Linked DNA regions of Homo sapiens. The protein of the gene in region 1 interacts with the protein of each later gene in a pairwise test. Each region holds a gene or a part of one and is shown on either strand. Other genes may lie near its edges.

Region 1 (3,649 bases):
GGACAACCTGTACACATTCTGTGGCATAAAACCATTCTCATGTTCACGAAGAGACAGAAGCATGTACACTCACACACTGGCCGTGGAATGGGAAAAGGCTGGAGGGATGCGCTCTCCCTTTGCTCTGCTGAGGGATGGATGGATCACCACTCAGTCATGTATTCACTCAGAAAACAGACTGGGTATCCAAGGTGTGCTGAGCAGAGTATGAGGTGCTGCATTTACAAAGTCAAATAAAAGGCGGTTCCTGCTATCAGGGTAATGCCCTGGAGTTAGGGGAGACAGACATGGGGAGGAATAAAAGCAGTAAAAGATGGTGTTGTGAGGGAACCTGGGCATAGTGTGGTGGTGCTAAAAAGGAGACGGTGCTCAGAAGAAGCTCCGCTGAGAATTCAGATTGTCAGAAAATTAAAATCTCCTGCTGGCCTCTCCCCATTGTTGTAGGTTTGGGCTGTGGAGGTGAGCAGAAGGTGCCTGTCTTTACTAAACAGCCAGGATGGAGGAATCCTGACAGTAAGTTTCTCCCAGGGAAATCCAGAAGCAGCTTCCATTGTTCTTGTTTTGTTTTGTTTTGTTTTGTTTTATTATCAGTGTAATCTTTTTGAAGTTGCCACCTTTGAGAATCTGCTGACTCTGAGATATGGTGTGGATATACTATTCAGAATAATGTACACAAGCACATAAATACCAGGTTTTGTCTACAGTTTCAGAGATTTGGTGACCTCCTTGCTGTGTCCGTCATCTGTGGATCCCCTAGAGTCCAGGAACCCAACTTAAGAATCCCCCTTCCGTATGGTCTGAAATTTAACCAGCTTAGATGATATAATCGATCCGATCTGTCCTATTTCAAAATATCCTGTGCAAATTGGACAGATCAAGTGTCCAACTTATTTAGAATCCCTTTTTTCCATAAGAAAAAAAAAAAGCCAAGCCCATATTTTAAGCCAGTGATCCTAGAGGTTGTTTGTGCATAATAGTTTTACCCTCTTTTTAAAATATATGCTGAAATGGCTTTCTCAATTCTGTGTCTGACATTTGAATAAGAAAACTGAGAAAGGCCTATATGTTAGCACAGTGCATCAGGAGAAGAATATTAGTATGATTCAAGAGGCTATTTGCCATCACCCTAGAACGTATTCTTCACTCACATTAAGTGATCACCCGTTTTTCTCCCTGTCAGGGCAGGACCCTAATGGCTAGGGAAGCAATTAGGGCCACATCTAGGGTGGGTCTGGGAAACCAGCCTTTCAAGGGTTGCAGACTGAGGACTGCCTCCACAGTTTAAAAAATGTTCTGAGTAGATCCAACATACCCTGTTTGGGGGTAGCACTCTTTAAACGTCCCCAAAGTCAATTCAGACAGGATAGGGCAAAGGTTTTGTGCGTGTGCATTTTCACAGACGGGGCATCGTAGCTTTCATCAGATCCTCAAAAGAGGTCTATGACCCCCAAAGTGGTAAGCACCACCGTTTCCGGATGGTCCAGACCTAAAGGTGAGCCTACACTAGTGCCTGAGTAAACCTTTAGGAGAGCTCTTGGGCCAGATTTCCCCAGCATTCCTTGTGTGCCACGTTGGGTGCTTCCCAGCTTGCTGAGCAGAGCAGCAGCTTCACCATGGGCATCTGGTCCTTGTCTAGCACAGTCTCCACTGTCTTGGGCCTGAAAGGGGATCCGTGGTGTCAACTATAGCAAAATTCTAGGATCTTTAGGAAGCAGATTAGGGAAACAAGATTGATAATACACAAGTTTATCTTTTCTCCCTCTGGAGACCTCATTAAAATGAGATTAAAGCCATTGGGGGGGAACAAAAAAAGTAGAGACCTACGTTGACAGTGAACAGGCAATGGTTACCAATAGGTAAGTAATTTTAACAAGTTTCCTGAAGATGGAGAACAGCTGCAAGGGTGGTAATTAATGAGGCAGGGCTGAGGAAACCTTTGTATGGAGTACAAATGGAGGAACACGTAGCTGGGCAGTAGCAGGTTTGCCTTATAATACCCTGGAGAGGATGAAGATTTCAAAACTCCCGATACAACAGAGAGCAGAAGTACAAGGCAGTGGAGCTGCGTTTGCTGGCAGGCATCTATCCTCCAGGCATAAAATCAGAACACTTTTATCTCTAAAGAACTGAAAAACTGGAGAAAACATTTTTCTTTCTAGTATACGGGGGTGCCACCTCTATATCTTTCCATACTTCTGATAAACTTCCCATAAACATAGCATGCCCAAACATATTTTCTTGCTTTTTTCATACATGTGATTGGGCAGGTAAAGGGTCAACCAGACATTGCAGGAAAGCTACACACATAAATAGGAAAACCAAGATAAACATAAAAATTGATCCAAAAGAAATAGAGATGATATAGGAAACAGAAGAAAAAAATAGTAACTATCATTTGTATCCTGAGAAAGATTTAAGATAGTTATATCCATAAAAGAGTAACAGCTTGGCATTTATTTAAAAAAAAAAAAAAAGAAAGAAGAGCCGGGAAATAAAGTAAATGAACTATCCCAGAAACTAGAACAAAAGACAAAGATTCGAAAAGATAAAGATAAATGACACAGAAGACCAATCCAGGAAATCAAACATCTCCTTATAAAGGGCCTGCTGATATCAGAGCTCTGGGAGGAATCACAAGGGAGAACTTCCTTTCTCAGAGTGGAACTGGTTGATCCTGTGTGAAGCTGAAATAATATGGGCCTCTGGGTGGCAAGGGGCTATGATTACAGCTCCTTGACAGCTTTATTAAAAAGAACAGTGCTTTCTATTATTTGGCCATCATATTTTTTATATTTTGCTTCCAATATAATGATTGCTTTTGCCTCACCAAACTCCCCGTTAGCTTTTAAAGGTTGTCAGCATTTCTGAAAAGGACATTTAATTATCCTCTTTCTGCTGTACTCAGAGAGCTGCTGGTGTTCTGAGCCGGACCCTTTCTTCCTCTCTGAAAATTGTTGAGGAGGCCTTGCGAGCAGGAGTGGTAAAGAAAATGATGAAATTCCTGAAGGTAAGATCACTTTATTGGTTACAACCCCTGAAATGTACAGAAGTCTCCTATTTTATTCGGGGAACAGAATTAAGGTGGGCTTTGTTTGGTTAATGTGCTGCCATTTCTTCCTTGCTAGATTTTAAACTTCTTGGATAGGGATTTGCTTCTGCCTGTCTACCCAGACCATACTCTGAACATCAACAACAGATTGTTGAATAAATAAGAAAATTGTTCATTAGATACATCTATAAAACCTGCTTACCCCTCAAGCCTGACTTAAAAATATATGGCCACTGTTCTTGATAAAAATGATCTGAGTGGCTTTCTGTAACGTTTCTCAGGCACATTGTTCTGCTCAGGTTTTGCTACTCATGATGCTTTATACAGTTATCTGGAGAGTGTTGGATGGAACTCCATCTATGAGACATGTAGCCTGCAGAATTACCATGTGACCAAAGGATGTTGGGATTTCCCTGTGAGATGAGTGTGGTGAATCTAAGCAAGCCAGTAGAGCAGTTATCTGGATTCACCTGCAAGGGCGAAGGGGATTAATACACTAGGCTGCCATCTCAGAATCCCACCTATGATGTGTGTGCCCATGAGGTCCATACACCCATGTTAGTGTGGTGACACATGGCTTTTATTCATAAAGCATCAGGC
Region 2 (3,649 bases), on another chromosome or scaffold:
GGACAGAAGCCTGCCAAGGAGGGTGGGGGCTGACTTCAGAAAGCCCTAAATGGCAAGGAGAGGAGTCAAGGCCTTAGTCTGTGGGCAGGGGAGCCATGAAAGGTGTGAGCAGGAGGGGAGAGGATGAAGACTGTGGCGTGCTGCACGGTCAGTGAGGAGGAGAGCTGAGACCTGGAAGGCGGGAGACCCCCGGGGCTAGGAGAAGAAACCTACCTGAATGCAGGTGTTGTGAGGGGAGAGGAGGCCCCATTATGGGGGAGTGTCATGAGGGGAAGGAACCTGCAACCCCGCCCTGTGTGTGGCAGGGGAGGGGGCAGCTGTGGCTGAGGCAGGGCCTTTCCCTGGACCCAGTCGGAGGAATCCCTCTGTCCCACAGGCCCCGCCATGGGGAAGACCAACAGCAAGCTGGCCCCCGAGGTGCTGGAGGACCTTGTTCAGAACACTGAGTTCAGCGAGCAGGAGCTGAAGCAGTGGTACAAGGGCTTCCTGAAGGACTGCCCCAGCGGCATCCTCAACCTGGAGGAGTTTCAGCAGCTCTACATCAAGGTGGGCGGCCGGCACCTGGTGTGAGGGAGCCAAGTACCCGGGTTGGGGGAGGCGAGGAACCGGGGGTGAGGGAGGCAGGGCACCCTGGGATGAGAAGAGGCGAGGCACCCGGGGTGGGAGGGGAGGCGAGGCACCCGGGGTGCGGGGGAGGTGAGGCACCCGGGGTGGCGGGGGCAAGGCACCCGGGGTGGGAGGAGGCGAGGCACCCGGGGTGCAGGGGAGGTTCCCTGAGATGGGGGCGGGGTGGGCGGGGCTGTCGCTGCGCCCCAACCCACCGCACCCCCCTCAGTTCTTCCCCTACGGCGACGCCTCCAAGTTCGCGCAGCACGCTTTCCGCACCTTCGACAAGAACGGCGACGGCACCATCGACTTCCGGGAGTTCATCTGCGCCCTGTCGGTCACCTCCCGCGGCAGCTTCGAGCAGAAGCTCAACTGGGCCTTTGAGATGTACGACCTGGACGGCGACGGGCGCATCACGCGCCTGGAGATGCTGGAGATCATCGAGGTGCGGGGCCGCGCGGGCGCTGCTGTTCCCGAGGCCAGCGCTTCGCCATCCCCGCCCCTGCCTCCGCGCTGCTCTCGGGCTTCGGGGCCTCCCTGCTGCTCCCCAGCCTGCGATCCCGCCTCCTACCACCCCGCTACAGGCCCGGGCTAAATGCTTTACCCGACACTCGACGGGGCGGAGGGGTTGGTTACTGTCCCAAACCCCATTTGGCAGAGGAGGAAACGGCCGGGTTCCTGATTCCAATCCAGGGAGTCTGACCTCATAGCTGATGTTTTCAACTCATTCTGTCAACAGGCAGGGATTGAGCGCCTGCCAGTTCTTGCTTTCATGGGGCATTCCTTCTAGTGAGAAATTTTTTTAAAAAATAAATGAATGAAGACATGCGGGGTCAGGCCGTAGGTGCTATGAGGAAGATACACTAAGCAAAGTGCAGGGAGAGCGCGTGATGGAGAAGTTACTTTATATAAGATGGAAAGTTAGCAGCAGCCTGAATGGGGTGAGGCCTTTACTGCAAGATGCCTGGGGGAAAGCGTTCCATGCTGAGGGGCAATTAAGGCAGGTCGGCCTTTCTCTGCAGAGTTCAAGGAGGGGCCAGGAGGCCCGGTGGTGGGAGAGCCATGAGAGGGAGAGAGTGATAGGAAGGTGGTCATACGGGGAGCCAGGAGCCCCATCAGTAAGGTCTCCACGGAGTTGGGCTTCTGGCATGTTTCATCCACATAAATATTATTTAGTCTAAATAAAAAATTAGTTGAGGGCTGGGCGTGGTGGCTCACGCCTGTAATCCTAGCACTTTGGGAGGGTGAGGCCGGTGGATTACCTGAGGTAATGAGTTCGAGACCAACCCGGTCAACATGGTGAAACCCCGTCTCTACTAAAAATACAAAAATTAGCGGGACGTGTTGGTGCATGCCTGTAATCCCAGCTACTCAGGAGGCTGAAGCAGGAAAATCACTTGAACCCAGGAGGCAGAGGTTGCAGTAAGCCGAGATCGCGCCATTGCACTCCATCCTGGGCAACAAGATCGAAACTCTGTTTCAAAAAAAAAAAGAGTTGCTCATTAAATATCCAGTCTTAATGACCACATATACCTTCCAGTATCCTCACCAACCCCCAGTGTTCTCCCTGCCAGATCCCTTTCCTTCACCCGCTGCTTCTCGGGGCCCCTTGTGGGTGTTCACACCTCCCTCCTCCTTCCCTCACCAGGCAATCTACAAGATGGTGGGCACCGTGATCATGATGCGCATGAACCAGGACGGGCTCACGCCCCAGCAGCGTGTGGACAAGATCTTCAAGAAGATGGACCAGGATAAGGACGACCAGATTACATTGGAGGAGTTCAAGGAGGCAGCCAAGAGTGACCCATCCATTGTGTTGCTGCTGCAGTGTGACATGCAGAAGTAGAAGCTGGTGAGGGGCAGGGTCCCTGGCCAGAAGGGGCATGGCCACCTCCCAACCTGATGACCTCTCTGGCTGGCCTCCCAGGAGGAGGGACACTCCAGCCCCCCTCTCTGGCCCACCCAGTCCTCTGCCCAAGCCCTTCCTCCCCTCCATCAAGATCTTTGAGGGACCACCTCACCCTGCAAAAGAGACAGGTCCTCCAGTACCCTGTCTTCTAGCCCCACCTCCCACTTGGCCAGAACCAATGTCCATTGGGCATAGGGGAGTTGGCTTTTGCCCCAGGAGGTGAGGTTAAGGAGTTGGGGGCCTGGGGTTCTGGTTAGGAATTCTCTTGATCCTGGGATTATGCTTTATAGGATGTGGTCCCACAGGCCTGTCACAGGGCCAAATTGGGTCTGTCCATTCCTGAGGCTCCAGATCCCATAAAGGGGGTCTCTTCCCCATCCCTTCTACTCTACCTGGCCCTTCCAGCCCCAGCCTTTGGAGCGTTCATTCAGTCCTTTCTTCAGCTAATGATTACTGAGCACCTGTTTGGTGCTAAGGATATGGTCATTTACAAGACACATCTTGTGCCCTCTGGAAGCTCATAGGGTTGTGAGGCAAACTTCCAGCCGTCAGGGTCTCAGCTAAGCAGAAGGTGCTGGAAGGCTGGTTAGTCTGGGAGGAGCTATTTCATCTTCCAGCTCAGCTCCACACAAAGCTGCAGAAGGACGAAATGAAAAGCATTTGGAAGTTTAGGAGCCACGTGAGTGAAAGTTTTAAGAAAAATGAAATTTATGTCATACTTATTTTTTTAGTACCCTTTAAAGGAGCTACAGTCATTTTATTATTTCAGGAGGTTAAAATATACTCTATATTACTTGGTTTCTTATAAAATGATTAAATGAATAGAGAAAATATTAATTTTCAAGGGGAAAAAACCTGAGAAGAAAGGGAGAAAAGACCATGAAATTTACCAGATAACACTTTTTAAGACTAAGTCCTGAGCTGCCACTCTCAGCAGTTTTTGCTGCTTCAGCTCTTCCTTTTTATTACCTTTTTCAATTCAACAAGCAACTTTCTGCTACATACTTACTCCGGTTGGGTGCTGACTTCAGGGACAGGAAAAAGCAAGGTTTGCAAAGAGTGAAACTAGTGTATATTCCGTATCTTGGTAGTTCGTTTCTGGATTGGGTTTAGTTTCAGAACTGGACTTGTTCC

Evidence for each region.
Region 2: the proteins of TTC12 (region 1) and HPCAL4 interact in binary tests that used the Homo sapiens proteins (3 or more experiments, as listed by UniProt).

What each region holds. Positions count from the first base shown.
Region 1 is NC_000011.10:113,359,496-113,363,144, forward strand, and holds part of TTC12 (tetratricopeptide repeat protein 12), read left to right. Parts: intron 1-444; coding exon 445-513; intron 514-2,905; coding exon 2,906-3,007; intron 3,008-3,649. UniProt on the Homo sapiens protein: Cytoplasmic protein that plays a role in the proper assembly of dynein arm complexes in motile cilia in both respiratory cells and sperm flagella.
Region 2 is NC_000001.11:39,681,339-39,684,987, reverse strand, and holds part of HPCAL4 (hippocalcin-like protein 4), read left to right. Parts: intron 1-376; 5' UTR 377-384; coding exon 385-546; intron 547-835; coding exon 836-1,051; intron 1,052-2,254; coding exon 2,255-2,452; 3' UTR 2,453-3,649. UniProt on the Homo sapiens protein: May be involved in the calcium-dependent regulation of rhodopsin phosphorylation.